Linked DNA regions of Homo sapiens: region 2 is linked to region 1. Evidence: fine-mapped expression QTL. Tissue or cell type: whole blood. Region 1 holds a variant in brackets; the other region holds the start of a gene. All regions are shown on one strand. Distances are between the middles of the regions.

The links. PIP is the estimated chance that this variant, and not a neighbour inherited with it, causes the effect.
Region 2: it holds the start of CARD19, and the variant in region 1 is fine-mapped to the expression of CARD19 in whole blood (TOPMed, PIP 0.91).

Annotation. Positions count from the first base shown.
Region 1 is chr9:93,068,882-93,077,056 of GRCh38, reverse strand. SUSD3 (sushi domain containing 3) reads right to left here. Exons shown (of 5, transcript NM_145006.4): 2 at 1,085-1,273. Among named protein-coding and RNA genes, the nearest start is that of SUSD3, 14 kb to the right of the region's middle. RefSeq lists an enhancer at 5,196-5,490. The variant T/C (reference allele first, on the strand shown) is at 4,354.
Region 2 is chr9:93,091,231-93,099,405 of GRCh38, reverse strand. It overlaps CARD19 (caspase recruitment domain family member 19), which reads right to left and starts at 3,189. Exons shown (of 6, transcript NM_032310.5): 1 at 3,054-3,189. The coding sequence starts at 3,060. LOC101927993 (a long non-coding RNA gene) reads left to right here and starts at 3,896. Exons shown (of 4, transcript NR_188444.1): 1 at 3,896-4,038; 2 at 4,392-4,835; 3 at 7,313-7,414; 4 at 7,707-7,946. RefSeq lists enhancers at 889-958, 4,152-4,201 and silencers at 2,832-2,941, 2,962-3,711, 3,732-4,041.

The DNA.
Region 1 (8,175 bases):
GCTCCCTAGTGGATCCTGGCCACCCAAAATGGAGACTACATTTCCCAGTGGTCACAGGACCATGTTCTGGCCAGTGGAAGATAAGAAGTGATGTGGGGCAACTTCTAAGAACCTTCCCTGAGACACTGGGGCCTGCTCTTTGGCCCCAGGGCCCCTCACCCCATAACAGCTGCCTGGAACATAGCTGCTGCCATCTTGAATCATGAGGCTGAGGCCATGCCCAGCAGAGCCATGCCAGGGAAGGGGCCTGGCTCCCACTGCCATGGAGCCTATACAGATCTGCCTGCCCACCCTGAAGGTTGAGCTCCATCATAGTTAATCCTAGTATTTTGGGTTTTCTGCCTTTCAGAATCTAATCCTAACACTCGCATCCTCAGAGAATCACCTAGCACGTGAACATTTTAAAGGCTCTGAGAAGTTCTGCAGCATAAAAACCCAGAATCTGCCAAACTATTTTGACTCTGAGCCCTTTTTATGCACAAAACACATGAACATAACACACATAGCTTCATTTTGGAAATGTCATGCTGGGCACTGAAAAGGGACTATCTTGTGGACCTTTCAACACCTGTACAAGAAATACAACCAGAAAACCATTGCCTCCCACAGACTGGGAGCTCCAGGGCCAGGCACGTTATGACCTTCCGTGTTGCCAGTACTTAAGATTCCTGATACGTGAAATATCCTATTAAAGTTGGCCATGTGCACCTGTACATGAATGAATGAATGAATGAATGAATGAATGAACAAACATAGTTTCCTGCTTAACAGATGAAAACGTGCTGGCTCAGAGAGCATGCACAGCCTCTTGGCGGTGAGGGGCTGAGTCGGTAGCAGAGCCAGGATTGGAGGCCCGCTACTAGGTTTTCGGTCCGTGCTGCCAACATGGCACTGGGAGGGCTGAGGGCCTACAGCCGGCTGCTGACATGTAAGCAAGCTGTCAGTGTTGGGAATGGGACCCTACACACTGGCCTAGCTGCTTGTGAGTAGACACCCACGCCATCCCCACCCACACCATCCCCATGACAGGATTTGGGGCCATCCCCCACCCCCAGAGCCACCGAGCTGAGAGAGGGGTCCTTACGTTTGCACACTGGGGACCCTGAAGACCACTCAGCGATGCTCCCCTTCCAGGTGCAGGTGAGGAGCCCAGACCCCACCATCTGGTGGTTGGAGGGGCAGCGGAACATGAGCACGGTCCCCACGGAAGCACCATTGCCACGAAGGACTTGGAAGGTTGCTTGCGGGGGTAGCCGCAGCTTAGCGCACGTGCCTGGGGAGACAGGCAGGTATGAGGCATGGCGGGGGGGGGGGGGTGGGCACGCAGGGCAGGGCTGGGCAGGACCCTGGAGTGAGGAGCTGGCACAGCATTGGGGAGCACAGGGGTGGGGTGCAGCTCCAAAGGCCATTGGATGCTCTAGAGGTCACATGGGGTCATCCAGACCGGGGGACAACGCAGAGCTGGATCCCTCCATGAAGTACACTCTAGATGTTGAGGATTGGAGCATTAAAAAAAGAAATAAGTGTTAGAAGACAATAAAAGCAAACATACCTTCCCTGAGACACTGAGGCATGGCCTTTGATTATGACCTAAACACGGCTCCAAAGGCAGAAATCAGAACAAAAAAAAAAAAAAAAAAAAAAAGAGGGACAGAGAGAGATCAGCAGATTTGACTGCATACAAAGCAGAAAGCAAAAGCTTCTGAGGCTCCCTAATAATGGAAAACAACCAACTCAGGTGAAAAATTCGGGAAAGGATATTTGGAAAGCATAGGTCAAAGGTTGGTTCGGTAGTCTTAATCTATGAAGAGGTCTTACACATCAATGAAAACTGAATATTCAGTTTAAAAAAAACCAACAAGTTCTAATGTGTGAACAAGCAATTCACAAGGATACCAGTGGCCCACAGTCATGAAAAATGCAGACCCACAGGCAATTGAGGAAATGTTGATTCAAGGGAGAGCTCATTTTTCCTGCGTCGGTGAGGTAAAGGCAAAAAGAAAACAATGTGCAAGTTGGCAGGGCCTGGGAAGCCCTGTACCCGGGCTGGGGTACAGATCCAACCTTTCTGCAGAGCATTTGGTAAATGCAATAAGCACCCTATGTTGCATATGAACCTTTAGCCACAGGAAATAAGAATCTGCTGGCCAGGCATGGTGGCTCATGCTTGTAATCCCAGCACTTTGGGAGGCCGAGGCAGGTGGATCATGAGGTCGGGGATTGAGACCATCCTGGCCAACATGGTGAAACCCCATCTCTACTAAAAATACAAAAATTAGCTGGGCATGGTGGCATGTGCCTGTAATTCCAGCTACTCAGGAGGCTGAGGCAGGAGAATCGATTGAACCAGGGAGTCAGAGGTTGCAGTGAGCCAAGATCACTGCACTCCAGCCTGGCAACAGAGTGAGACTGCATCTCAAAAAAAAAAAAAAAAAAAAAAGAATCTGCTGCCAAGATTTCTCTATGGGGAAGCCCACCTCAGAACCATACATAATAGTGAAAGGCTGAAACAACCCACGCCTCCAGCAGGAGGGAATGATTCCCTTACCCAGGGCCATCCAGACATTAAAATACCAGAGAGCACTTACAGTGATGTTCTTTTTTTTTTTTTTTTTTTTTTTTTTTGAGTCAGAGTCTTGCCCTGTCGCCCAGGCTGGAGTGTGCAATGGCGTGATCTCAGCTCACAGCAACCTCCACCTCCTGGGTTCAAGCAATTCTCCTGCCTCACCCTCCCGAGTAGCTGGGATTACAGGCATGTGCGACCACACCTGGCTGATTTTTTGTATTTTTAGTAGAGACGGGGTTTCACCATGTTGGCCATGATGACCTCGTGATCCGGCCGCCTTGGCCTCCCAAAGTGCTGGGATTACAGACGTGAGCCACCACACCCGGCCAGTGATGTTCTTAAATAAGGACACAGAGATGCTCTGGATGCAACAGCAATCAAGAATTTTTATAAAATTATAACGACAACAGCTGGGACTGAGAAGATTACTGTGGCTGGATGCCATTGCACCTGCCTTACATGTGCCATCATCTATCGGCATAGCAGCCTACCCAGGGAGAACCATCATTATCCCCATCGACAGATGAGCAAACTGGGCAGAGGGTCTTACCACACTTTTTGCAGTCACACGGCTCTTATGCTGCAGGGAAGACTCAGAACCAGACAAGGAGGCTCTGGTCTAACTTCACACACGTTCATACACACACAGACACACACACAAAATGCATCTGAGTCGTTGTGCTATGCATATATCAGCAGCTGGTTACTTTTCACAGCAGTGAAGTGTTCCATTGTGCAGATGGGCCTCAGTGTGTGTCCCTGTTCCCTGCATCTGAGTTGTCTCTGGGGTTCAAGGACGTTCAGTGAAACTGCTAAGGACATCCCCAAGCAGGTCTCCTGGTGTCCAAATCCAGGAGGCTCTTCCTCCTGCTTATCTGGTATTTCCTGATTTTTGGGCATTGACAGTGGACCGCTGGTGCATCACAGGTAAAGAACAGGGACAGGACGGGCACGGTGGCTCACGCCTGTAATCCCAGCACTTTGGGAGGCCGAGGCGGGCGGATCACGAGGGCAGGAGATTGAGACCATCCTGGCTAACACGGTGAAACCCCGTCTTTACTAAAAATAGAAAAATAATTAGCCAGGTGTGGTGGCGGGCGCCTGAAGTCCCAGCTACTTGGGAGGCTGAGGCAGGAGAATGGTGTGAACCCAGGAGGCAGAGCTTGCAGTGAGCCGAGATTGCACCACTGCACTCCAGCCTGGGCGACAGAGCGAGACTCCGTCTCAAAAAAAAAAAAAAAAAAAAGAACAGGGACAGCAGGCCGTGCTGATGCATGGTGTGTGCAGAGGCAGAGACTGACCGGAGGCAGCAGTGGTGAAGGGCCACCTGAGCATCTCTGTGCCTGTCTCCCTCGGCACAGGCAGGGACTGACACCCAGAGATGGGGGTGATGGCAGGGACAAAAACTGGGGCATGCAGAGTCTGAGGGACCCCATTATTCCACACTGACCTGCTACGACCTTCCTCTGTCCTCTGTGTGCTACATCTCCAGCCAGGACCATGCCCTGGGTGCCAGGAATGGAAGTCCTACTGCCCACCGAGCCTGAGATGAGACATAGCCAAGCTTCTGAGCTCCCCAAACCTGCTCACCATGTAGCTTCTCCTCTTATAACTTTAATTTAAATCAGCAGTCCCTCCATCCTTCAGTTGCTTGGGCCCTAAACCTTGAAACCTACTTTCTCAATCCACAACCAATTGGCCAGCAAACTCTGTGGACTCTAATTTTAAAATGTTTACCAAAGACATCTGCGGTAGGCTGCATACCATCCCCCAGATTTATTCACATC[T/C]GCCCAGGAGCAGTCACGTGGGCTGGCTGTGTGCCCAGGCAAGGTCTTTATCTGCGAGACATATCACTCCATTTCTTACCCCACATCTCAATTCACAAGCCCATCTGGGGGGAAACTGAGGCTCAGAGAGGTCACACCACCCCTTGCCCCAGCCATGTGTGCCACGGCTATTAATGGGCATCAGCAGAGCTGGGCTTCAGGCCAGGCTCCGAAGTCTGGTCTGGGATCTGGCAAAAGTGGAGGCTACCAGAGGCTCTGTGCCATGGTAGTGACAGTGAAGGATGGCATTTGGCTGCAGCTGGCCAGGTCACATTGACCCACTCCCCAGCAGCACCCAGTGGTCCCCCTGCCCCTGGCCTCTGCATGACTGAGGACCCCAGGGCCTTAACAAGCTGAGATGCTGAGGGCGAGAGTGCAGAGGCAGGGGTGGCCCTCAGGAGGGGTTGAGGCAGACATGCCCCACCGCTTTGGGAGGGTCAGGCTACACTGCTTCTGCCTTGAGGATACTTGCTAGCAAGGGAAGAGGGGTGGGAGGGGCTTATGGTTTGTGTACTTTTCTGGGAGGGATGGGGGAGGGACTGATCTAACACAGACAACACTGGGGGCCTAATGGGTGCTGTACTGCATTATAGCCCTATGAGGAGGGTGGTCTACCCCTACCTTACAGATGGGGAAACTGAGGCACAGCAAAGCTCAATGGCATGCCCAAGGTCACTCAGTGGGAAGGTGGTAGGGATGGAACTGAGACCCAGCACACTGTTTCGGGAGCCCCACCTGATGGCCAAGCCCAGTGGGTGGAATCTGCCCCATCTCACCTCATCCTGGGCAGCTGCAACTCTAGTTCCCACCCCTGGCTGCGGTTGCCTCTAGTATCCCTTCTCCCCATCCCAGAGTTGCAGCTGGAAATGTGATCACCACTGAAAACTACATTTCCCAACCTGCCCTCCAGGGAGCAGTCACGTGACTGAACCTGGCCAATGAGGTGTGAGCATAGATGCTGTGTCACTTCTGCATTGGGGAGTGTGATGGTTAATATTGAGTGTCAACTTGATTGAATTGAAGGACGCAATGTATCGTCACTGGGTGTGTCTGTGAGGGTGTTGCCAAAGGAGATTAACATTTGCGTCGGTGGACTGGGAGAAGCAGACCCACCCTTAATCTGGTGGGCACCATCTAATCAGCTGCCAGTGAGGCTAGAATAAAAGCAGGCAGAGGAACGTGGAAGGACTAGATTGGCTGAATCTTCTGACCTTCATCTTTCTCCCATGCTGGATGCTTCCTGCCTTTGAACATCAGACTCCAAGTTCTTCAGCTTTTGGATTCTTGGACTTACACCAGTGGCTTGCCAACGGCTGTCGGGCCTTCTGCCACAGACTGAAGGCTGCACTGTCTTCCCTACTTTTGAGGTTTTAGGACTCAGACTGGCTTCCTTGCTCCTTAGCTTGCAGGCAGCCTATTGTGGGACTTCACCTTGTTATCGTGTGAGTCAATACTCCTTAATAAACTCCCCTTTATATATACATCTATGCTATTAGTCCAGTCCCTCTAGAGAACCCTGACTAATACAGGGAGCAAAGATGGTAGACATGTGAAAGGACAGACCAACCTCTCGGATCCTAAGAAGAGACAGCAATAAACTCCAGCTGGAGTTAGGCCACTGTTTTCTTGTGGATTTGTTAAGTGGACTGGCTCAAATCTGATACAAAGCTTCAGCAACACGTCTCAGCCCAGTGCCCTATTTAGCGCTTGGGATTCTGGCTGGTCCACTTGGGGCCCCAAGGTGACAATAACAAAAGTAGGAATATCAGCAACAATAATAATAGAAGGAAGAATAATGCCCAGGCTCTACTCTGTGCTGAGCGCTTCAGCAGCTGTTGGGTGACAGTACAGAAACGAACACACGGGTTCCAGCCTGTGGGGCTCCTAGTCCACCTCCACCACACACATTTGGGGGCCCAGGCAAGGGAGCCTGCCCCGGCCTCAAAGTCAGCACAGCTGTTGTGCCCACCTTGGACTGGGGTGCTGAGGAAATGAGGTGTAATGCCAAGGCATCTGGAAGGTGGTTGTGCCTGGTACACATGAGGGCAGGAGCCATGATGTCCTTGGAAGAACTGTCTCCCCCATTCTGCAGCCCCAGAAACCATGGCTCAGGGACACTGAGGTCACACAGCCAGTTTGTGGTTCCGCCAGGGTCAACCGCAGGCACCTGGCTCTTTATCCCCGGGCTGCCCCCATCCTTTCTGCCCCTTCAGTATCTGGGGAAGGCCAGCCTCTGGCCTGGGCAGGGCCATTCTGACTGCTCCCTGTCTATGGATCCTCAGCATTTGCACAGCCACTAACAATAACAATGCATGTATGGATAGAATATTCTGTTCAAGAGCACCCCACATTCTTTATCTGTATTATTACAGATAAGGCTCAGAGAGGTGGATTCACCTGCCCAAATGCCCACTGATAGCAGGGAGGGAGCCACCACTAGATGCGGTGTCTAAGATTCTTATATTTGTAACATATATGTAATAGGAGATTTGTATCTTCTCTACATAAACAGCACTTATATATTAATAAGCCAATGACAAAAATCACAGCAAAATGTGTAAGTTAGAAAAGAAAAACAAATGGCTCGGCCAGGCATGGTGGCTCATGCCTGTAATCCCAGCACTTTGGGAGGCCGAGGCAGGTGGATCACTTGAGGTCAGGAGTTCAAGACCAGCCTGGCCAACATGGTGAAACCCTATCTGTACTAAAATCAAAAATTAACCGGGTGTGGGTGGCACATGTCTGTAATCCCAGCTACTTGGGAGGCTGAGGCAGGAGAATCGCCTGATCCCAGGAAGCAGAGGTTGCAGTGAGCCAAAATCGTACCACTGCACTCCAGCCTGGGCAACAAAGTGAGACTCCATCTCAAAAAAAAAGAAAAAAAAAAGGAAGAAGTAAAACAATCTCCATTAGATGACATGATTTCGTATATATGTAGAAAAGCCTCAGAAATCCACTAAAAGCTATTATAAATAGAAATTAGTTCAGCAAGGTTGTAGAATACCAGGTCAACATACAGAAGTCAATGTATTTCTGTACAGTAGCAGTGAGCAAATTGAAAATTAAGAAAAACATTTTATACAACAGCATCAAAAAGAATAAATTAGTTATAAATTTAATAACAGAAGTGCAAAACACATACTCTGAAAACTACAAAACGTTGTTGAAAGAAATTAAAGACCTAAATAAATGGGAAAACATCCTATGCTCATGGATCAGAAGACTTAATATTGTTACGATGGCAACATATTATGGTAGTCCGTCCTTATCCTTGTTTTCACTTTCCATGGTTTCAGTTACCGGTGGTTCCACAATCAGAAAATAGTACCTCACAACAGTTGTGTTTTGGGCCATTATTAAGTGAAATGAGAGTTGCCTGAACACAAGCACTGCAGTATCAGGGGGTCTGATAACCCAGAGGGCTACTAAGTGACTGACAGCAATCCCAGGCGGGGTGGAGCGGGATGGGTGAGATTTCATCACAACACTCAGAGTGGCTCACAGTGTAAAACTTACAAATTATCTCTGGAATTTCCCATTCCATCACAAGGCCTATGTTTTTCATCTCACTTCATCTCATCATGTAGGCATTTTATCATCTCACATCATCGCAAGAAGGGTGAGTACCGTCTATTAAGATATTTAGAGAGAGAGAGACCACATTCACATTACTCTTATTATAATATATTGTTATAATTGGTATAACTTATTACTGGTTATCATTAATCTTTCACTCTGTTCAATTTATAAATTAAACTTATCATAGGTACATGTGTTTAGGGA
Region 2 (8,175 bases), 22 kb before region 1:
AGCCATGTTGAGGACCACCTCTTGATATTCAGACGTTCTGCCTCTCTAATTAACATGGAAATTCACTGTAATCAGCTACAGCAGTCTACTCCCTGCCAGTCCAAAAGCACGCCCAAGGCTGTCCTCTCCAGCATTGCCCACTTGGCTGAGCACCCAGTAGGTGCTCACTAAAGAGTTCTGCAGGCCGGACGCGGTGGCTCACGCCTATAATCCCAGCACTTTGGGAGGCCGAGGCAGATGGATCATGAGGTCAGGAGTTCAAGACCAGCCTGGGCAACATGGTGAAACCCCATCTCTACTAAAAATACAAAAAAAATTAGCTGGTCATGCTGGCACACGCCTGTATTCCCAGCTACTCAGAAGGCTGAGCCAGCTACTCAGGAGGCTAAGGCAGAAGAATTCCTTGAACCCAGGAGGCAGAGGTTGCAGTGAGCCAAGATTGCACCACTGCACTCCAGCTTGGGTGACAGAATGAGACTCTGTCTCAAAAAAAAAAAAAAAAAAAGAGTTCTGCAATGTATGGTCCAAGACCCAGGGGCAAGGGCTGTAGGTGGACCGTGGCCAGCATCCTGTAGTGGCTTCCTCCTGCCCTGCAAGCCGCTAACCAGGCAGAGCCTCCGCTGCTGCAGAGCCATGAGTCACCATGAGCCGTGAGTCAGCTGGCACAGGCCGCACGGTCCGGAGGCTGAAGCCAGGCTCTGCGGCTTGGGGGTCCTGTGCTTCCTGTGGTTGCGAGTTGTGCACACAAACAGGCAGCACTTGGAAGCCAGAAAAGGCACAAGAAGGGAAACCATCTCAGTGCCAGCTCCCGATAAACAAGTCCCTGAACTGTTTTTACAGGACAAAGGAAGATGGCTCGCTCTGGCACAGACCTGGCAAGCCTTCACCACGCCCTACATCCCCTTCCTTCTTGCCAGGCTGGCACCAGGACTATGGACCCCCATTCAAACACCCCAATATGAACCTTCTTATCAGCCCAGACTGATGCCCTCAGCCTGGCATTCAAGGCCCCGTGGGAGCTGGCCCCACCCACTCTCACCGGGCCCTCTAGGCCCACAAGACATCTCAGCCCAGGCTGAGAATACCTGTTCCTTGGTTTCCACCTGGTTAATTCATGTTCACCTTGCTGTTCTACGTGCAAAAGGCCTTCCTGAGTTCCTGTCATCCCCAACCAACTGGAGTCCAGACACTTGGGCATCAACCTCCTCTCCCGAATTTCTTCCAGGAAACCCCTTCTCTCAGTGCTCAGCCCAACTAAAACTGCTCACTCCCCGGCACAGCCCAGGGGGTAACTTGTCAAGCACCTGCCCCACGCAGACACCTCCTCAGCGTTCTGCAGGCACTGGCTCACATGCGCTGCTCACAGCGAGGGCTGGCGCAAGGCAGGACCCCAGTTGGTGCATGGAGGCAGTGAGCCTGGGACTATGGGTCTGCAGCCTCGCAGGGCTGTCCATATGACCCTCCCAGAGCTGTGCTCCATGGGCCTTGGTTCCCCATCCCAAAAACTAAGGGTTGTGAGGGAATGTCTCCAGGCCCAGTGAGTAGACATAGCAGGTAGGAAGCATACACTGGACAAGGTGAGGCCTATAGTCAGAGCCTTCAGGGACCCCTGCCTGATGTGGTTTCCCAGCTCCAGGGTCCCCTTATGCAAGGAAGCTTCCCTGACAGGCAGAAAGGGACAAAGTCCCTTTGTGCAGGAAGGCTCCTTAATGGACAGCAAGGCCTCAGGCTCTGCCAACACCCAGTCCCTGGGACAGGGCTCCCTGGAGACCAACACAGCTCTGAGTTGTGTCCCACGCATTCTGATGAACTCACTAAGGGAATTACGGAATCCCAGCCTGGGCAGGGCACAATTTAAGACTTTGTTTCCCCATCTGTACACAGACGAGATATTCCAGGTGTCCCCATCTGATCATTTTCAAACAGGAATCACCCAACACAGGGTCCAATGCACAGTAAGTGCTCAGAAATGAGAGCCACAAATAAGAAGAGTTAGAAGGGAGGACAAAGGGGAGCAGGTGGCAGCTGGGGTCTCTTGTGGCCTAGGCTGGAAGTCTCTTCTGGCCTGGTGTCCTGGAAGTCATCAGTTTCCAGCCCATGAGATCCTATTTGTGGGCAGGACCTAGGCTGAGACTCAAGAGAGCGAGCACCGAGAGAGGACTAGGGACTTCTGGGGCTACCCTGAGCCCCTGAGCCAATTCTGCTCCATGAAACAGAACAGTAAGAATGAAGTGTAGCTTCTGGGAACCCCCATACTCCCTGGCCGGGCTGCCATGGGGTCCCTTACCAGCCCATCACCCTCATGGGGCTTCTCCAACAGGGGAAGGTCCACAGGGCAGAGTCACCCTGTTTGGGATCAGGAGGATGGTGGGCAGGTCCCCAGACCAGAGAGGCCCTGGGGAGGAAGGCTGGGCTGGGGCCACTAGCGTGGAGCACAACAACCTTGGGGGGTCCAGTCGCTGTCCCCGATTCTCTTAGAACTAAACAGGGGCAAGAGCGTCGTGGACCACCGAAGGAGTCTGGGAGACTCCAAGAGTCCCACAGGAATCACATGCCGCCGAGGAACGCATCGCCTGTCCCGCGACCTCGCTGGGGTGGTTGTAAGGATGGAGCGTTGTTTCCGTGGCCAGAATCACAGCAGGACCGCTGTGAATTCTCTCCGGTGTCATTTCTACCACCTCCTACTCTTTCAGACCAAATTCCCCACCACGGGACACACACACATTGGCAGTGGCTGAGCCCAGACCGCGGCTGTGCAGCCCCACCCTGGAGCTGCCTTGTAGCCCCCGCCCTCTTCGGGCCCCGCACCTGGCCACCACCCATCATGCCCGGCACCGCCTCGGCTGGCACGGCCCCGCCGGGTAGAAGCCCCGGGACACCCACCACTTCGCGGGGGTGCACTCGCGCACCACCGACAGCTGACGGGCCAAGGTCACTCGGCCCCCGCTGCCCAGGCGCGGCCTGCAGGCGACTCGCAAGGCAGCCGGACCCCCGGGCCGGGCCACCCATCCAGGGCGCCCGCATCCCTGCCGCCCAGCCGACCCCGTGCCCACCTGTCATGGCGACGGACACAGCGCCGCCCGCAGTCCCCAGCGGTCTGCCCCGCCGCGCGTCCGCCCCTCGGTCAGCCGCCCGGTCCACCAGCTCCAGCGAACGCCGCCCGCGGGCCGTGCTCGCCCGCCCCTTTTGGCTAGGCCAGCCCCCCGGCTTTGGCTGTGTAGCCTCGGGGACTCTAAACCCCGCCCTTTGACGAGCCCCGCCCCCTACCGTTAGGCCCCGCCCCTTCCGCGCCCGCTACGGCTCCCCCAGGGCTCTAAACTCCGCCCCTCTCACTCGAGTCCCGCCCCCTTGCCGTCCTGGGATAGGCCGCTGCGAGGATCCTGGAGCCTTGCCCCTCACTCGAGCCCCGCCCCCTCCGGCGTCGGCTTCCGCCTCTCCCGGAGTTCTGAGCCCCGCCCTGCACCTGAACCCCGCCCCCTCCGACGACGGCTTCCGAGCCTCAAGGAACCCCCCACCGGGCCCCGCCCCTTACTCGAGCCCCGCCCCCCTCCGTCGTCGGCCTCCGCGCCTCCAGGGGCCCTGAGCCCCGCCCCTTCCTGCTCTGCCATGCGACTGCGGGCGTGGGCGGGCGACTGCGGGCGTGGGCGGGCGCCACCGGACTCCCGCCCCTCCCAGCGTCAGTTAAGACGCCGCGAGGGGCCCAGAGTCCCTCCCCTCGCTGGGCCCCGGTCCCGCCGGCGTCTATAACGCCGTCGCAGCGGCCTTTAACCCCGCCTCTCACTCGAGCCCTGCCCGCGTCCAAGTCCCGCCCTCAAGGCGGCCTCAGCTACGACCGCCGCGCGCCTCCCTGGAGGCGCCCGCTCCTGCCCGGAGCCCTGCCCGTCTTGGGCCCGCCCTTCCGGGCCCTGCCGCGTTGAGTGGCGGAGTCGGGATCCAGGTGGCCCGCCGGCCGGCTCAGTCCACCTCCCCGCTCCCGGCCTCGCGCCCCACCCCTTGGATGAGAAAACTGAAACTGAGAGGGGACGTGACTGATCCAACGTCATACAGAAAGTCAGGCCCTGGGGAGTACAGGGCCAGGCCTGGGGCAAAAGGCCGGTGGGCGTCCAGTACGCCACAGGGACCAGCCAAAGGAGGCAGTGCCCAGTGATGCTTTCCCAAATCCAGGGGAGAAGGACTCAACGGTGTGACCTCGCTCGGCGGGGTGGGGGGGGGACACCTTCTTGGGGGACCCCAGTCCCCCACCTTCAAAAGAAGACACTAGCTTGACAGTGTGACCCGAACTAGAGAGGTCACTTAACCTGCCTGAGCCTCAGTTTCCTGGACTGTAAAATGAGTGACCTTGGGCCAACTCCACTTCCCTCCCGCTTTCCTTCCTGCTTTCCCTCTCGTAGGCCTGGCATTTCCAGCTCCGGAGCCCGCCACAAGAAGCTCCTAGCCCCACATGATGTGAATGCACTGGGCCCCAGCCAGGAAGTGGAGACCCGTGAAGGAAGGAATAGCAGCACTCTCCCAGCCAGCAGCAGCAGTTTCCCTTCCTCTTTCCTTCCCTGCCTGTGTGGGCCGTTCCCCCATAGCAGCTCTAATTTGAGATGCCAGAGCCTGACCCGGAATGGGGGCCCAACTCAGTGTCCCCTTCTCGGACAGCACAGTGGTCCCTGCAGTCCATGCGCCATCTGTCTCTTTGCCTCAGTTCTCCCCTGTGCCATGACCTCCCATCAGGGCCGGCATAGGGGGCATCAGGAGAATGGGTGCAGTTGTCACCTGGAAACCTCAAAATTCTTGGGGCCCAGTCATGGTCACTATACAGCAGCCACCCCTGTCCCCAAACACTGAAGGTGAGCCCCGTCCATGCTCCCCAGGAGGCCAGGCTGCCATCAGACCCAGCCTGCCCCAGGCCCATGTACAGGGCCGTCCCAGGGCAGGAGGGTAGTGGACCAGCCTGTGGGTCCCTGCAGGCCTCTCATCTGCTTGTGTGCCTGGGTGAGTCCAGGCTGGCTCTGGCCTCCAGGTGCTCCCCTGGAGGACCCAGAGGGGGCTTCCCCAGAGGGCCTCTTTTGCCCCAGTGGGATGCAGCCTGACCCCAATTCTTCTGCATCCATCACACTGTTATGACGTGTAGTACTTACTTCTCTGGGTTTATTTTGCACACACTCCTGCCCCTGAGTGATGTCAGAGCCATAAGGGTGGCGACGGAGTGGAAGGGGGACACAGTGGGGACTGCAGGGGCTCCAGGCACTGCCCACCTTCAGGGAACCTTGACCCCAGCCCCTTTTGGGAAAGGTAGCATCCCACCTTCACATCCACTTCTGCGCCCTCAGGACTGCCCCTGGCCATGTGATGAACAGGGAAACTGAGGTTTGGAGCATGAAGCCCCTTGCCCAAAATCTAGCAGCCAGATGTGGCCTCCCAAGTACAGGTCGCTGTTCCTCAGCCACCTGAGGGTTTGAAAAGGATTTACTTAAAGGAACCCAAGCCTGCATGCAGGGACTGAAAGCCCTGTGCCCTCTGGGATGTGCCCTCCAACCCTATGAGATGGAAGGCCGCGGCAGAAAGCAGGACAGCTGCTGGTGCAGCCAGGGGTGTACAGCCTGGATGCCCACCACGGGGGCTGCAAGCAGGCACGGGCACCCCATGGTCAAATGGCAGATCCTGGGCATTCCCCCTCCCCCAGGCATAGCACACGCATCCTCCCTCCGGGCTAGCTCTTGCCAGCTGTGGCTGCCTGGACCCCAAATGGAAAGTGAGTTCTTGGGAAGGTGGAGGGGCCCCTTAGAAGGAGTGAAGTGAGGTGTGACAGGAAGCCCCGCCCTTGGACACTGTCAAAGAAAAACCAGAGCTGGACTGTGGTTACAGATGTAGAAACAGATTTTTATTCGGGACTCTTGTGATAGGGGAAGAGAGACATCAGCAGAGAACTGGGCTCAATTCCAAATACAGCAAGGACACTTGGGACAGGAGGGGACTTTGAGGATGGAAAATTAGGAAGAGGAAACATCAGGGTGAAGGGGATTCCGGCTGACAGAATTCTTGCAAAGACAGCCTGGGCTTACGAGACCTCACCCAGGGGATGGTGGGGGTAAGCACCCTGATTGGGTATCAAGGGTGATCAAGTATCCAGGGTGGGGAGTTCTTGCCAAACTCATTAGGAGGATTCTTTGTTGAAACTGGATTTTACAAGGAAGTTCACAGATGGGCCAAGGAGAAAGTTCAGGACCCTGGCTAAAGTTTGTCAAGCACAGAATCTTTGTCAACGTCACAGAAGCCAGAGCCCTGACACACACACACCCCCACTCCTCTGAACGGCCTCCACCTTACTATTTGCTTCTTTCAGATTTTCTTGCCATCACATGCTTGATCTCATTAGAAAGCAGGCACAATTTTAAAATTATACAGGCAAAGCTAATTTCCACAGGGGTTCTTTGCACTGGGTTGGGTGGGGGCACTCCCCCTGGTTTTCATAGGGCCAGCCATTCCTCAGGCCTCTGCTCACCTGCACCCTGACCCTGTGGGCTCTGCCTTCCAAGCCCAGCCCTGCTCCCACCTCAGTGACCGCCATCCCTGTTATGTCTTGCCTGGAAGGTGGCAGCCGCCTTCTCACATCTCACTGGTTCCCTGCCCCATCCTTGTCCCCATGGCCCAGTACCCACATAGTGGCCACAGGGGTCATAACACTGAGTCTGACCATCCTCCTCCCTCACCCGGGCTCACAGCCTTCCAGTTCCTCCAGCAGCCACCTCTGCCATTTACAAATCTTCATGTGTGCTGTGACCACCCAGAATGCTCTTCCCAGCTCTGTGTCTAGCATCCTCACCCCCACTTGGAGTCTGGCCCTTCTGGACCACGTCACTCGCCACTGCACCCCACCCCCCATCTCTGTTCTTCAGAGCACTAGTCTTGCCCTATGATGGCTTCTCCACTGACCATCATCTGTGCTGCAGTGTTCACTCCACAAAGGCTGGCATGCAGGAGGCACTTAATGAATGCACACAGATAGTTCTGTTGATGATTAGGGTTAAGGATAGGAGGGCAAGGACAGATGCTATAAAGATGACAGGGTGGCCTCCCCGAGAGGCTGATGCTGAAGAACGGGTGTTCCTAGGCCAGGGCAGGAGGCATGAGGCCCCCATGGGCTGTGGGAGACCTTCATGGCTGAAGCTGACTGTAACCAGGCCAAGAGGTGATGGTAGGTGATGAAGGGCCTGAACACCAAGGAGCAAGGACATTCTCCTCCCACATTCTCACATGGCCAGGGAGCATCATTTATCCATTCAGTCACTCATTAATTCATTCAACAAATATCTCCTAAACATAGGCCCAACCCAGAGCTGGATCACAAGGAAGACTGGAAGCTCCACTCCCCCATGGAGCTTCCCTGTTACCAGAGGACACAAACACACATCTGCATGTTGATCTGGTAAGAGCTAGGGAGATGAGTCAGGCAAAGAAAGAGGCGGAGGATGCCTATGAGGTTGCCAGCCTCCAAGGTGGCCCCAGCAATCCTCACATTCCAGGTCATGCCCTTGTGTAGTCTCCTCCCACAGTCAATCAGGCTGGTCTGTGTGGCCAGTGAAGTGTGGCAGGGGTGACAGTGTGACTTCTGAGGCTGGGTCACAGAGGCATCATGGCTTCAGCCTTTGCATCTTCAGATAGCTTGTTCTGGGGCGAATCAGCTACTATATTGTAAGGATGCTCAACCTGCCTTGCAGAGAGCCCTGTGTGGAGAGGAACTAGGCCCCCAGCCAACAACCAGCAGTGACTCACTGTGAGAGAGTGAATCATCTTGGAAGTGGATCCTAAGCCCCAATAGAGACTTCAGATGAAACTGCAACCCTGGCTGACATCTGACTGCAGTGGCATAAGAAACCCTTATGTCAGAATCACCCTGCAAAGCCCAAATTCTTGACCCACCAAGTGAAAGAGAATAAATGACGATTGTTGTGTTTGAACTCCCATGTTTTTGGGTAATCAGTTCCACGGCAATAAATAACTAATGTACTAGACATCTGAGCAGAGGCCTTGCTGCACTGCGGAAGCTAGATGATAGCTGGGGAAGTGTTCCAGATGAAACAGGGCAGGCAGGAGCCCCGAGGCAGAAATGAACTTGCTGTGCCTGAGAGACAACCATTGTGATATTGTGGCTGGAGTGGAGTAAGGGGAACAGTAACAGGGAGTGAC